Regions from separate parts of the Homo sapiens genome. Here region 2 is linked to region 1. A link means that fine-mapping ties the variant in region 1 to the expression of a gene that starts in the linked region. Tissue or cell type: prefrontal cortex. Region 1 holds a variant in brackets; the other region holds the start of a gene. All regions are shown on one strand. Distances are from middle to middle.

Region 1 (8,112 bases):
TCCATTCTGACCCTTTGAAGTTATTGGGTATAAACAAATGTATAATTATTAACATTTCTAGCTAACTTAAGACAGTACAATAAGACAGGCAAAGCTATTAGGGACTTACTAAATTCACATAACACAATAAAGTCATTAAGTCAAAACACAAAAGTAGAGACATAGAGTAGAATGTAATTTTGAGGGCTCTAAACCACTAGTTTCTAAAAAGTAAGCTTTTCACAAATACTGATCATTAGAAACTCTCTGTTGTAGAATTCTGGCAACCATCTGTTGTTACCGTGTGTGACTATATAATAGGTCAGGGCCCAGCAATGCTCCAGGTATTCTCCATATACAGGAAATTTATCCCCTGGAGTTGGCCACCACAGATCTGGTCAGTTCAACATGCTTCACAAATCAAACTCTTTTTTTTCCCATCTGCAAGCACAAAGACAACTAATTTCTCCTACTGAGAAATAAATATAACATTCTTCCAGCTGAAAAAGTAATCTGTATCCTGAGGCTTCAGACTCCAGTAATACAAATGCCTAAATGTAAACTTTTTTAATAAGCGGGTGGGGGAAGGAGGTAGATAATATAGTAATCTTTTTCTACTCCCTTTTTTGGTTATTGCTTTCAAATTAGTTTGTTTTTAAAAATCTGAATCTGAAAACGAAAATCATGAAACTCATAGAGTCAATAAATGTCTTTGACTTAATAAGCCAGACAATGTTTTATAAAAGACCTAATTTAAAGGAATTGATTGTTGATATGTACATTGAACTTTTTCCTCAGTGGCAATTTTTATATCAATTGTAGATGTGTTGTTGTTGTTGTTGTTTTGATACAGAGTTTCACTCTTGTTGCCCAGGCTGGAGTGCAATGGCGCGATTTCGGCTCACTGCAACCACTGCCTCCTAGGTTGAAGCAATTCTGCTGCCTCAGCCTCCCAAGTAGCTGGGATTACAGGCATGCACCACCATGCCCGGCTAATTTTGTATTTTTAGTAGAGATGGGGTTTCACCATGTTGGTCAGGCTGGTCTTAAACTCCTGACCTCAAGTGATCCACCTGCCTTGGCCTCCCAAAGTGCTGAGATTACAGGCATGAGCCACTGCACCCAGCCCAATGTGGTCATTTTAACTTATTTTTATAGATTATTGGCCATATGATTAGTCATTTCTTGACATCCTCTAACTTAAAAAATTCAAATTTAAAATAATTTAATCAAAATGTTAAATCATTTTAAATCATTTGGTTACTTGGGGATAGATATCTTAGGGATAGGACCCAAGTCTAAACACAATATTCATTTGTTTCATACACACCTTATTCACATAGCCTGAAGATAATTTTATACAATAGTTTTAATTTTTGTATGAAACAAAAATCACTTGATAAAGCATTCTGATTACTTTTTAAAAATTGACTTTGAGCTAAATGATATCAATAAATGACTAAGGATATAGCCAATAATCTTTAAAATCATTTATGATTCATTTAGTTCTATAATTTTACCAAGGAATTAAAGACATACAAATTCAGCTATCAATACTTTTAGATAAAAACTTGACTAACTCACAGTGTTTACACAATTAGCTCACATTCAGCTAAAGAAAATATCCTTCTTGAGACAGTAGATTCATTTTTCCCACTTATATAAACATAAGTTATCCTACATACCATTTCTGGAATGGGTACCTCCAGTTGTGTACCAGAAGGTGCCTGAATGGCCAAAAGTGTATCACCTGGTCAAAAATAAATATAAAAAGTTACATAAAATACTGTTGATCATGGAATACAGTGGCAAGAATGTGGGCTCTGGAATCAGAGTGTTTGGTTCAATCCCAAACTAGGTGACCTTGAGCTTTGATTTTCAATTCTATAAAATGGGGGATACACAACCTACTGCATAGATTTATTTTGAGGATTAAATAAGATAATACATGTATTAGTATTATACATGGGTTAGCTGTATGATTCTCATTAACAAATTCAGCTCAAGTTGATTTTGCTTTGACTAAGACTCCTGTAAAGTCTGAGATTCTTAAGACCATTTAGCCTCAAATAACACTGTTCATTGGACTGAGGATAGTGGAGATTAGGTATGAGACACTGAAATGTTGAGCTTAAATGATTTTATTATTTTTGAAGCCAAATTCTACAACAAATCTCTGTTGAGTTGCAGATTAACAGAAGTCTCAGCAAACTTCCTTAAAAAACTCAGGAAATACAGTGGTAAAATAGAACAATAGTCCTATACTTATTTCCAACATAGTCTTACATAGAAAGTCAGATTCCACTTGATGAGGTACTTGGCAGAATCTTTTTAAATAGGTGGATAATACACATAAATTTAAATATGCACAATTTCATTTTACTTGTGCTATAATTTTGGGAACACACGTCCCCCCATTTTAGTTATATTAATAATTATAATTATTAACATGATATTGTTATTTTAAGGAGAAAACACAGGGGCAGCAAATTGCATAGGAATAGGTTTCCTGGTTATAAGATGGATTCACCTAATTCTTTCCTTATGGTTTCTTTGAGTTTCATTTGAGACCAGCATACTTGCATATAGTTTGATAAACAATGCTGATGAGAACCATGTTCTAGTTCAAGTTTGGTCACTAACTCTGTGACTGTGTGACAATGAAAGTTGCTTAATCCCGCTCTGATTTAGCTTGCCCTCTGTCCCTGTCCCCTTCCCCTTCCACACACAGTTGATCCCTACCAGTGGAGCTAATGAACTGAATGCTGTGAAAAGCAGCTATTCTCATGAAAACAGAAACAAAAGCAGTCTATCAATACACGGCATGGTGGAGTGAGACACAATGCCCACAACTTCTGAAAATAATGACAGGATGAGGACACAGGGAATTCTGAATCACCCTCCACTAAATAGGTTGAGAGGAAGAATGCAAGGAAAAGTCTAATGGTACTTACCATTAAAGCAATTACAGATGTCTTCATGAGTTACATAGGAAAATGTACTGTCATAGGAGTTAAGGAACGACATTTATATCAAGCCGTAGGCATTTAAATTAAGGTAATACATCTGAAGGTCAAAATAACTAAATGACCATATGCACAGAGGGACTGCCACACATGGACAGACAAAAAAAGAAGTCTAGTCTAGAAAGGTAAAGACAAAGGAGTTCCCATCCTTTGCTCTTAGAAGAAGCCATTCTGATTTTTGTGACATTTGAGGACCCTTAGGAGAGAGATGGAAAGCAGTGCACATTCTTCATGGAGGCAAAGGTTTCTGGGGGAAGGGAATGGATGGGGAAAAGGAGGCCATCAGCAACCATATCAGCTTCCACATCAGGAATTTTCTGTGATCGTTGTTTTTTGTTCTTGTATTAAATGGTCAGGTATGGCCACAAGAGGACACAGAGGATTAAAGAAAGGCTCAGAAAAACAAAGTATTATACTCATAGGTCCTAGTGACGGGAGGCAAGGCAGGCTACTCAGGGCCACATGGTTAAGACAACAAGGTGGTCAGGAGGCAGAAGACAGGAGCAAGGGGAAAGCATTAGCCCAGAGCTTTTATTGGGGTTTCCTTGGGAAAAGAAATGCAGGGTGGCTGGGCATGGTGGCTCACGCCACCCAGCACTTTGGGAGGCCGAGGCAGGTGGATCACTTGAGGTCAGGAGTTCAAGACCAGCCTGACCATATGCACAGAGGGGCTGCCACACATGGACAGATAAAAAAAGAAGTCTAGTCTAGAGATGGTGAAACCCATCTCTACTAAAATACAAAACTTAGCAGGGCATGGTGGTGAGCACCTGTAATCACAGCTACTCTGGAGGCTGAGGCAGAAGAATTGCTTAAACCCGGGGGGTGGAGGTTGCAGTGAGCCAAGATCGCATCACTGCACTCCAGCCTGGGCAACAGAGCGACTCCATCTCAGGAAAAAAAAAAAAGCAGGGTGGGGAGAACACTACGATTAGCTAGTCTGGATAATTTTGTTTTGTTTTATTTTGAGACGGAGTTTGCTCTATCGCCCAAGCTGAAGTGCAGTAGTGTGATCTTGGCTCACTGCAGCTTCTGCCTCCTGGGTTCAAGCAATTCTCCTATGGCCTCCCTGGTAGCTGGGATTACAGATGCACATTGCCATGCCCAGCTAGTTTTTGTACTTTTAGTACGGACAGGGTTTCACCCTGTTGGCCAGGCTGGTCTCAAACTCCTGACCTCAGGTGATCCGCCAACCTTGGCTTCCCAAAGTGCTGGGATTACAGGCGTGAGCCACTGCATTTGGCCTAGTTTGGATAATTTTGGTGGGCTCTAAGCTATGCAGGTAGTCCCCCAGTTGTCTGGTACCTGACCCTGGGATGATTAAGGCAGAGGAATATTGCCACCTGGGGTGTATGGACTGGAGAGAGGAGGTCTGGACCTTGACTGGTTAGTTTATATATCAAAGGGATGCTCCTGGCTGAGCCCATGCTGTTTCTTTTTTTTTAATTTTATTATTATTATACTTTAAGTTTTAGGGTACATGTGCACAACGTGCAGGTTTGTTACATATGTATACATGTGCCATGTTGGCGTGCTGCACCCAATAACTCGTCATTTAGCATTAGGTATATCTCATAATGCTCTCCCTCCCCCCTCCCCCCACCCCACAACAGTCCCTGGTGTGTGATGTTCCCCTTCCTGTGTCCATGTGTTCTCATTGTTCAATTCCCACCTATGAGTGAGAACATGAGGTGTTTGGTTTTTTTGTCCTTGCGATAGTTTGCTGAGAATGATGGTTTCCAGCGTCATCCATGACCCTAAAAAGGACATGAGCCCATGCTGTTTCTAAGAAGTGGCTAGTCCCAGGATGGGCAGTCTCTCCTCAGCCAGAAAGGTTTATGGAGATGTCAAAATACCATAATATACAGAAAACTTTATATATATCACACATAACCATGGTTGGGGCAATGGGAATGGCCAGCATCTCGTAAAGCAGGGCAGC[G/A]AAGTCCAAGATAAAATAGATTAATGGCTTTTGAATTTCAGAGCTCCACAGAACACAGCTTGAAAACTCCCATTGTTCTCAAACTGTTAAGGGGCTCTGATCCATACAAAGGAAATAACAAATGAGATCATGGACTTGTTCACCAAATACATGAAAATGTGAAAAGTAAATTATATTGTATACATTAGTCAAAATTTCATGAGGTGCTACAAGGTAAAATGTGGTTAGTTTCTTTAAGAGTACAGGTAAGTTCATAAACTAAGAGAATCACAGATACCTGAGAGAAGACGGTGGTTTGTAAGAAACACATGGATATGTGTTTTTATATATATAATAATGTTTTTATATATTATATATAAATATATTTTATATATTATATATGATATTATATGTATTATATATAATAATGTTTTTCCCCCAATATATATTGTTGATAGGCACACACGACTTAGACCCCTGTTCTCCAGTAGGAACTATTTTGGGGTTCATGTTAGGCAGAAAGTATCAAGGATTGATTGTGGACACATCATATCTCATCTTTAAACGAAAAATTTTCAAAACTTTGAGAGCTGCTGAATTTTATACTTCAGAACACTGAACATAATTATTTAAAAATACAAATGTACTTAACAATGGCTTCTAATATTCACAGATTTCCTAAGCACACTGGCTAGCATACTGCATTCTATCAATTGGTAGACCAAAAGTTGGCTAATCTCTTTTTCCCCCTCAGTGCAACACAGGAATAACGCTAACGGATCTGTACTATATAACTTAAAAAGGTAACATTTAGAAAATATTAGTATATAAGAATATAATAAAATTAAAATGTCATATTTACTTATAAAACTTAACTGTCTAAAAACAAAGTGAATGATCTTTAGACTGAAATGATTTATACATACATATTCCAAAGCTATATGTATATGCATAACTTATTTAAAAGGATATCTATTATTAATGGAATCGTCCATCACATTTTTGATGCTTTGCTGTAGCCACAACTTCTGCTGATCAAGTTCTCTTTCCTTCAGTTCTAGATCTTCAATTTCAGCTTTAAGATATCTTAATCTATCTATGACTTCTTTAGTATTACAGCCAGCACCTACACCTCTTAAAAACATATGAGAATTAATATCCTCAGTATCAGATCTAGGTTAATATCACTTAATTTTTACTGTAATAAAACTGACTTATTTAGTAATATATTCAAGACAGAAGTCTTTACACTCTTAAAATCAAGCACTAAAATCCTTAAAAATTTTAAACACCATACTTCTTGCTTAGAAAATTTATTGACAAGAACAACCAAATTACAAAAATTCTCAATCTTCCCTACAGTGTTTTTTTGTCATCTGGAAGGCCAGACTGGTTGGTGACTGGGTACCAAAAGAGTGTGCTCAGCAGTCACACCTAGCAGTCTCAGGATGTGACTGAGGTGCTGGTAAAATAAATTACAACATTTTAATGTTTTGGTGGAATTTTGGCGAAAACAAAACAAGACAAAAACTATGGTCAAAGGGGACACATTAGAAGAACAGAAATTGTTACATTCAAACGTATAACCAGGCCACAATTAATGACAACATGCGTTTCAATTAATTACTATTTACAAAGTACAAATTCCTATGAAAGTAGTTCTTGCTCTCAAGGACAGGTAAAGAGTTAGGAAGAGATTAATACAAGACAGTATGCAATGTGTGCCAAATGAGTAATAGCTTGAGGGAGAAAGTAAGATTTGAATTTTAAGAGCGAAAACCCAATATCCAAGAGAGCAAGGGAACACCCAACACAGGAGTGACACAGAGGCCCAGAAAGGTGTGTTCAGGGAAAGCTGAGGGGCCTGACTGAAATAGAGGATTTGGGAGATAGAAACATTGGGAAGGTCAAATTTTACAGAGCACTGAGAAGAAAAAAGGTTTCAGAAGAGGGTGCTGGTTTGTAACTTACTTCCACTGGATACTGTTTTTTGACTTTTTTTCAATCAAGTCAATTCCCTCTAAGACATTGGTGATATCATAAATTCTCCTTTTTTGCCTCACAGCCAAAGTATCAGCAGCCTGTTCAGGAAAGACAACGAGAACAGTGAAATAAAGGGCAAGTCATATTTTAAAGCCAAAAAGGGTTGATTATTAAATCCACAACAAGTCCAATCTCAAATTTGACCCACTCAGTTGCTTGGGGACAATAGCTGAGCATGTTCAAAGCATCTCCCAAACACTGCAAATACCAAAGAAATTATTCCATTTAAAAGCTAGCAGATGTTGGAACAGAAAAAGAAATTAAGGTCATGACACAAAGCCTGCAAAAATAAAAGAACACAATAAGAATACTTTGTGTCACCTTATGGACTAATCCTGAGGAGGAGCTACTAATTGCCTATCCATGTCACCTCCTATCTTATTTCTCTGTTCATAAACAGTCTCATCTAAAGATGCATTACTTATTTTTTAAAATTTTAAAGAATTACATCTCAGCAATTTATTTTGGTAATTAAGACACTTGGAAATTCTGAACTATATGCACACTTATAATACCTTGAAATAAATATCTACATTTTTAAATTAATAACGAAAACAGAGGAATGAATCATGCCATCCTAACACAAAGCATAAAATCAGCAAGAAATCAGAATCAATAGCTCAAGATTGCACTAGCAACTATTATACAAAAACTTGGTAGCTGCATTCACATTAGATAAGATCAACAAAACAATATATGCTATCATGTTATGAATTCAACAAACAATTCCTCTGATTAGTTCCAATTCACATTTTTGATGTGTGTTCCCAAAAGAACAAAGAGAACCTCAAAGAAGTTTTCAGAGTGGATTAGACAATAGCCTATTTTGAATGTGGAGCCACATTTTAAGATCCATGGTAGTTACAAATATTTGTGTCTCTACTGACAATTTTCAGCACATTATCTAAAATATCTAAATGAACAGGATTTAGCTTCACATAATTGCTAACAGCTCTCCCAGCTTCGCATAATTGCTAACAGCTCTCCCAGAGAGCATCACTACTTTCTTGATTCTGTGAAAACCTAGCTCAGCACAGTGTTTGCAATCTGGACCTGCCTTCCCCCCAGAGAAGGTGCCACTGACAGCTATATTCACTGTACAGGCATTTGGGATCTTAAGAGAAATGTCAGTTCTCTCAGACA
Region 2 (8,112 bases), 230 kb before region 1:
GGTTGGGGAAGATGTCTAGAAGGCATTCTCAATACTTAATTTATCTTGCCATGGCTCTCTAGATTGGCTGTAAAGAAACAGAAAGATCACAGTGAAGTACTTTGGGTTTCACAGAATTTAATTTAACCAAGAACTAAGATGCCTAATGATTCTGCTTAAGAACATGTTCATAGTGTGTTTCTGAGCTTCTGTCACAGCCCCTATGTTAACCAGAGCCTATCTTTGGAAAAGAATAAAGCAGGAAAAATGAATTGGTCCTCACCTCCAAGGCAATTGCCACCACTTATTGGTTTGGCTTTATAAAGAGAACATGTCAGAGGCCTGTCTTAAACCCTTGTAATTTGATGCGTTGATCTGAGTTAAAATTCATGTTTTTCTTTAATGAGTTAACTGAGACAGAGAGTAGTATGTGCTCAGATTAAATGGTATGTGTGTACACATATCTCTACGTGTGTGTAAATATGTATGCATGTGTATATATAGATATACACACACACATATATATGCACACGGTTCATTAAGAGATTGGAACATAAGCATTATTCAGAATTTCTAAATGCTATTTTTAGAGCACTATATTCTTATAAAATAGGCAGTATAGGGCACTGGATAAGATGATGAATTCTGAAGCCAGTCTGTATCAGGTAGAGCACTAGCACTCACCAGCCGTGTGACTTTATTATGTGTCTTTTCTATGCCTTCTGTTTCCTCATCTGTAACCTGTCTCATAAGGTAGCTAAGAGGATCTAATGAGTTAATACATGTAAGCATTTAATAAGTATTAGCTATCCTTTTTCCAGTTCCATTGAGGACCCTGGGCTTTCTTATTAAGTAGCTATCCAATTTCTAACTTTTAGGGTTTTTCTTTTTTCGAGACAGGGTCTTACTCTGTTGCTCAGGCTGGAGTGAAGTGGCGCAATCACAGCTCACTGCAGCCTCGACCTCCCAGGCTCAAGTGATCCTCCCACCTCAGCCTCCTGAGTAGCTGGGACCACAGGTGCATGCCACCATGCCAGGCTAATTTTTGTATTTTTTGTAGAGACAGGGTTTCACCATATTGCCCAGGCTGGTCTCGAACTCCTGGGCTCAAGCAATCCACCTGCCTCAGCCTCCCAAAGTGTTGAGATTACAGGTGTGAGCCACTGCACTCGCCCCAGTTTCTTAACATAACCTTGGAAATCTTCATGTTTGATGCCAACTCACCTATACCCTTTTACCTGTCTAGCCTAGAATGTTCAGCAGCTTCAGTTCAGCTAAAACTAGTACAGCTCTTTTCATAACTATAGACTTGAAACAAAAGCAGTGGATGATGCTTTGTTGCTGTGGTTCTTATTTTTAATTTTGCAGTTTTCACTGTATGAGACCGAGAATGGATTATGGCAGTTCCTCTTACCTCCGCTGCATACTTGACTCCATCCACGGTGTGCTCAGAGCCATGATCATCCGAAGAGCCCCAGTGAAGATGAAACTGGCGAAGTCGGTAGGGTCCAGGGAGAGGACCCCCTCTCAGCACTGTGATTCAGATAAGCTTGGTCAACAGTGAATTCATGCTTCTTTTACAGAGCTCTACTTTAACCAAGTGCTCTTAGAGCCAAGGCTTAATGGACAAAATGTGGTCAGTTTGCTGGGTGGATGGTGCCACTCCCAGGACACTGGACTCCTCACAAAATGAAGTCTGGGGATATGTCAAGATAAATGATTGTTCTTTTCTGTCTTTCTTATTTTGTTTGCTTGTTTCATTATTATTGAAACATCATTTTAACATTTAGGAAAGCAAAATTAAAACAACAGATAGACAATGAGGATGCATACACCCAAAGAACAAGTCAGTAGTGTGGTGCAGTGGGAAGAACTGGACAGTTGAGAACCAGGTGGAGGTAGGTTTCCAATGCTGGCTTCACCCCTTGCTAGTTCTGTGGTCTCAGGCAAGTTGCTAAACTTCTCTGAACCCACTTTCACATCTCTAAGAAGGTGATAATAATACCAAACTTTCAGAGCTGCTGTGAAGATTAACTGAGATTAAGCACCTTAAAGTGCTCATCATAGTGCCTGCATGATGATCACTGAGCAGATGTGAATTCCTTCTCCACGTGTTGCTTCCAACTACACTTTTCTTCAAGACAACGAGCAAAAACTTTCATCTACGTCTAATTTAGACTGTGTCTATTCAAATGAGATGAAATGGAAAATTCAGAAATTTCCCAGAAAACCAATCAATGTGGATGATTAAACTAGATAATTCTCAGCAGCATTAATTTGGGCTTGTTGATAAACATCTCAACCCATTGCAGAGTGATTTAGAGGTTCAAATGTCTTCCAAAGTATATTGGAAACTATGCAGAAACCCTAAGATCAAGATTTGGCAATATAAGCTAGATCAAAATAGAATTCAGAGCATAGCTATTTTAGAAGAGGTTGCCCACACTAAGTGGCCCAGGGAAAGCCATAAATATAGACCTCAAACAATGAGGCTAGGCCTATATGAGTTTGTTCAGGTAGAAATGGAGTGGTTCAATTCATTGCATTTTTCCTGTCCAACCACTCAGAACAGTTATTATAGGGACATGTGAGTCCAATTTATTAGAAGAAACTATATGAAATTGACAATATTCAACTATTTTTGCACACAAAAATGGCATTTTCATATGGTTCAACCTAATAGATATGTTTAATTTTGTTATGTTGCTTTCAAAATGGTACTTGATATATAAGGAGAAGGGGAAAAAAGGAAACAATAGCAATACGAAACCACTGTTTAAGAAAATTTAAATTTCTGTAACTTGGAACCTCCTGGTAGGTAGGAATTATGAATATCATTCTTCATTACAAAATCATTAAGAATGTTCATTTATGTATATCAATAAATATAACTTTATTAGAGATGGGGCTATAAGGAATTATTTTGCTGTATATCAAGCACCAAAATATTAAAGGAAGATTCTTTCTTACCTCATTTATCGTGAAATAAAGTATTTCTGACTAGTCTTCTTTTATTATACTGATTTGCTTACTAGTGTAGGTGAAATAAAGAGATTTGTTTTTTCTAAACATGTATTTTTCAGTCGCTGTCTCACACACAAACTACTACTCAAGAAGAAATTGTCAGATATTTCAAAAATACTCACCCAAATGATTAATCAGATGAACCCCACTGAAGGCTTGAAGGCAAGTCATCTTGACACCTTCAGTGGCCCTGTTCTCTCCCCTAGATTGGTCACCTCCCAGGCACCAAGGGAAGAAAGTGCCTATTTAGGGTTTCTATTGTATATCTGGCTTTGTAGAATGGAATCTATGCAATTGAGAGTGGAAGCCTGGCTCTCCAGACCATGGACAAGAAGCACAAGAACCCTCAGGTATAGGCCATCGGAGTCTGAAGAATACTCATTTGAGTTTATTGTCATCTCTGTCCTATCGTGTTCCATTTCAGGAATGCATTGCCAACTTTTAGCTTGGACATGGGGCCGTTTTCACAGAGACCAAGTTTGGAGGGTGTGACATTCCTCTTCAATACATAAATATAATTATTCATGACTAAAGCAAAGTCAAATGTCATCTGCATTTTAAAAGATAAAGTGCTCCCTCTCCCCATTAATTCTGGTACTGTGTCATAAACCACATTTTGTCAATATGGACCTTGAAAACATCCATGTGATTCTACCTCATTGTCATACTTACTTGACCTATCATAAGTATCATCAAATACAACTCGGCAGGTCTTCCCATTATTCAGGATGGTCTTGGCAGAGCCACCATCATAAGACACAGACCATGGCTGCAGAGAAGGGTCATGCCTGATGTCTTTAGTATGCAGCTCAACGGGCGACTGGTTTTCCCCCTTGGCATTTGGGAAAAGTTCATGCCAGTGGTCAGGACCTAGGAAATAAAGTCGAGGAGATGTATTTATTTGGTGGCACAACCCAAGGCCTCTTTCTAATTGACTAAACCAGCAAAATACAGAGAGGCTAGACAGTGATTTCAAAAAGGTCTTAGGTTTCAGACTGGGCAATAAGAGACTTAGCATTCATTTCAGGCCTGTTGGTAGTTTTGTGAATAGCACACATGGAGACTATTTAACTCAGTGTGTTCACTCTGCCTGCTCAAAGGCTTATTTTTCAGATAAACTTTATCACATTTTTTTTTAACCAATGACACCTTCCATCATAGAGTTGGAATAAAATAATATTGACCACCTACATTTGAGCATTGTGTTGTGGGTTTCAGAGCACACCCATGTTCCTTTGCCTTGGATTAGGGAGAAGCTTAGGCAGAGCAGAGATTCTCACACCGGCACCAAGCTCAGGTTAGGTGCTTGTCCAGTAAAACAGAATAAGGGCCAGTCACACCTGACCTCGGGCTGTCTGACTTCTCAGAGGCAATGGGATCTTAGGCAAGTGATCCAACTTCTCTGCACTTCAGTTTTCTCCAAGGGAAATAAAAACTCCATACTAGGGAGAACCAAATGAGATGAAGGAAAAAAAGAAGCAGCAGCATTTGGCAGTTGAAAAGCCTCAGTAAATGTTAGGTCTTATTCTACTCCTACATTTTCCACTGCAGTCTCTAAAGTTGCCCATTTCTGTGCAATGGCAGGGCTCTCCTGGACTGGCATCCCTTCCTGGCCGGGTCGCGGCTGCCTGCACTCACCGTTGTGACTGGCGTAGCCCCACTCCTTGGCCATGGTCGCCTTCCTCCGTGCTGGACGGCTCCTGCTTTCTCTTCCCCTGCGTGGTGCAGAGTCGCCGCGAGCCCGCGCTTTTATGTAGCTCCCCCGCACACTGCATGGCCTTATTAGGTCAGCGAGGGTGGGGCGGGGGGCTAAACTAGATTGGGGTGGTGTTTGGGAGGCCGGGTAGAGGAAGCCAATGAATTCCAAGAGCGGGACAGCTGTCGAGGTGACGGGGGCGGAGGTGGGCGAAGGGGCACCCACGCCCCTCCCTGCGCTCTCCCGGGAGTCGTGGCTCCTGGCCCCTCCATCTCCTCTTCTTCTCTCTCAAAACTGCAGGGTTTCTAACCGGCGCCGACGTGCAGAAATGCAGGCGGCCCTCACCTCGTCCTCTCTCCTTCCTCCATGCATTCTTGGGGATGGGGTGGGGGCAGGGACAGGGTGTCGTAGTTGTGCTTGGCCACGAACTAAAATCTACATCCCGGCGGCTCTTGCAGCCTCACTTAAAAGTTGCTTCAAGCGCAGGCTGGCTGTCTGGCTACGATCTCTGGACACTTGTGCGAGTTTATTTCGCTCTAGCGATCCGGTTACAGAGGCTGGAAAGAACTCGTTTGTTTGCCTGCCCCCTAAGTTTGACTCCCTTTGCAGGCAACATGTAAAATCCTAGGAGCAAAGGATGGGAAGAAAGGGTCCGGAGCAGGGTGAGAGGGTGAAGAGGCCCTCCAAGTCCGTTATCCTTAAAGAGATGGCCCTTTCTGGAATCGCACCAGGCGGCATTTCCCAACCTAGCGGATCCTTTTGGCTTGCAGGAAACCGAGGGCTGGATCTCAGAGAGCGCCAGATATCCAGGAGATGTCTGGATCCCAGGTTCACGCGGAGCTGGAGACTGGGACTGATTTAGCCACACTCCCTGAGCTGTACCTCTGTTCATGAAAAATCAAGAATATTCTGAAGTATTGGAAGGCCACTAACATAAAATGAGTCATATTTCTTAAAACCTGTGGTCTTGCTCTCCAAGATACAATGAGAGATTGCAAGAAAAGAAAGAGGGAAAGATTTACAGAATGGCTTTTAATTTTTTTCTCCCCCTACTAAGTTGTTTTCTTATACATTGAACCATGCAAAGGAGAATAAAAGTGGCATATCTAGTGTGTCTACATGACAAAAGTATATTTTTAAATGTCTGGTTATGGTTCATATCAAAGAGGTCAGTAGTAGATATTTACAATTTTAAGAGTATATTGTAAAATTTCTCCTGTTTTAATTCAGTAATAATTTTTTAAGACAATGAGGAAAGATAAACCTAATTTCAGTGCTATCTTGAACAATATTTCGATATACATTTCCTTAATTAACTTTTATTGATAATAGTATTTAGTATTTGGGGATTACAAAACTCGAAAAGGAAATCGCTCGTCATGGCACAGATAGCTCATCCCTAAGGCATGTGGAATGACTGACCACACTCATAACCTGGACGCCAGGGGAGTCATTCCCCAGGGTATTTTTGTGACAAGGGATTATTTGATCCACACAATAGCAGTGTGGAATCAGGAACTAAGGCAGTTCGGAAAATCCAAGCAAACATAGTAAACAAATGCCCTTAAACTCTCAGCTCCTATCTGTCACTGTTTGATCAGAAAGACTGCAGTGGTTAATGGAGATGTTTTGTAGTTCTTATAAAATGTATAATTATTTGTATGAGTAAACCAATCCACTCAATCATTACAATATTCTTTTTCTGGTATGAGTGGTTAGAAGATTGGCAAATAAATTTCATGTTATTTGATATAGTAATCATACAGAGAAGACAATAACATTTATACCAAGAACGATCTAGAAATTCATCATGTTGTTATTATTTATGCATAGAAGGATACCTTTTTTAAAAAAAGTGCTATTTATGATTAATTTTAAATGCGCACAATAGCACATAATTTCAAATAAATGCTAGGTAAACTTTGCAAAGTGAAATATTTAATAGCTTTAGATGTGCAGCCTTTAAAATTACGATTTGTATTGCATTATACTTTCCCATAAGAAGTTAATAGAAATTGGAATTTCAAGACAATTTATATTAAGTCATGTAATTTTAGGCCATAGTAAGTTTTTCAGAAACTTTATCTAAATTTTTCTGCAAATACATTTTTCAAAAACCTCATCGGCAAATTTACTATCTGCATCTTAGTTGATTTATTCCAGCATGTTTGCCTATACATTTCAAAATTCTCTGTCAATAAACAGATAATTCTAAACTGTGTGTTCAAGACTTTGAGATTTCTGGAGTTCACCTGAAAAAGAAAACTGTTAGGTATACACTGAGATAAATAATGCCAGAAAAAAAAAAGAGTGAGCAATGATTAACTACAAATTATCTCCTAGCATATTGGCAGCATTTCTCACAGTGCCATTACTGAAAAGTTGATATATTGGGCAATTTGTAGGAAATGACTGTACACATATAGAGAAAGAGAGAAAGAGAGAGTAAGAGAGAGGAAAATATTTAAATAAACAAAAGTTATTGGTGGGGAAATAGTGTCCAATATAGAAGTTTCATCTAGGATTGTACGTTAACATTATAAACTTGAAGAGCTAAGGATATAAAATTTAACTATATTTTACTCATGACTTGGCATTTTGTTTTGCAAGGTATCAGGTAATATAACTAACTCAAATCTTCTACAAGTTACCATTTGGCATTTCTATTGCACTACAAAAAAAAAAAAAAAAAAAGAGTGAGAAATTGCCCACAAAGTAATTGCAAAATTTTGCCTAGATATTTTACATATTATAGAGGCATGCACTTTCTATTACATTTTCATTTTTATGAAACAAGTTCTGGCATAGAAAGGTGAAAATGGCTGATAAAAATTAAAATTGTTGATTAATCTACTGAACTGTCACAAATAATGTAACTTTTACGTTCTTCCCTGACAATGTTATTTTCCAAAGCTTGACTCACTAGGTTGTATAAGAACATGATAGGCCCAGCCCCTGAGTGTGTCACCAGTGACAGCTGGGCCACTTGAATCAGGTCTTAGAGTTTGGCTCCTGTTCATGGCAAATTTGTAGGAGAGCAGCCTAGGCCTTGTCCCAACTGGTCTCCCTCCCTGGAATGTATCAACCTAAGGTAGTCACTTTATTTGAGAGTAGGAGCATGAATCCAAAGACGAAGTCCTCCCAAATCTGTGCAGCAAGATTTCATCATCAGGGTCAGCAAATGCAAACTATTTTCTTTCAAAAACAAATTCTTCTCTTAAAATATATTAATAACACCTTAAATGGAGGAAAGTTCCTTAAACTTTATGATTTTTTTAGGATCAAATTTAAATGCTCAACTTCAGTTTTCAATAACTTGATGGCATTTGCTTATAGAAATAACAGGTGAAATTTTGCTTTGACATTTCAGAAGCATTTAGGTGGCCATTTGCTTAAATTTTTCTTTGACCCCA

Direction of the effects. Alleles are on the strand shown, and positions count from the first base shown. SD is a standard deviation of normalised expression in the study named.
For the expression in prefrontal cortex of the gene that starts at base 4,726 in region 2, G is the high allele of the variant in region 1 and A is the other (large effect, 0.90 SD a copy in BrainSeq).

What was found. PIP is the estimated chance that this variant, and not a neighbour inherited with it, causes the effect.
Region 2: it holds the start of CA3, and the variant in region 1 is fine-mapped to the expression of CA3 in prefrontal cortex (BrainSeq, PIP 0.95).

What each region holds. Positions count from the first base shown.
Region 1 is chr8:85,201,042-85,209,153 of GRCh38, reverse strand. E2F5 (E2F transcription factor 5) reads right to left here. Exons shown (of 8, transcript NM_001951.4): 2 at 6,898-7,007; 3 at 5,899-6,060; 4 at 2,934-2,977; 5 at 1,665-1,729; 6 at 1-12. Among named protein-coding and RNA genes, the nearest start is that of RBIS, 15 kb to the left of the region's middle. The variant G/A (reference allele first, on the strand shown) is at 4,948.
Region 2 is chr8:85,435,473-85,443,584 of GRCh38, reverse strand. It overlaps CA3 (carbonic anhydrase 3), which reads right to left and starts at 4,726. Exons shown (of 7, transcript NM_005181.4): 1 at 4,642-4,726; 2 at 3,676-3,873; 3 at 1,394-1,512. The coding sequence starts at 4,675. CA3-AS1 (CA3 antisense RNA 1) reads left to right here. Exons shown (of 3, transcript NR_121630.1): 3 at 1,348-1,779. RefSeq lists enhancers at 4,367-4,889, 4,890-5,413.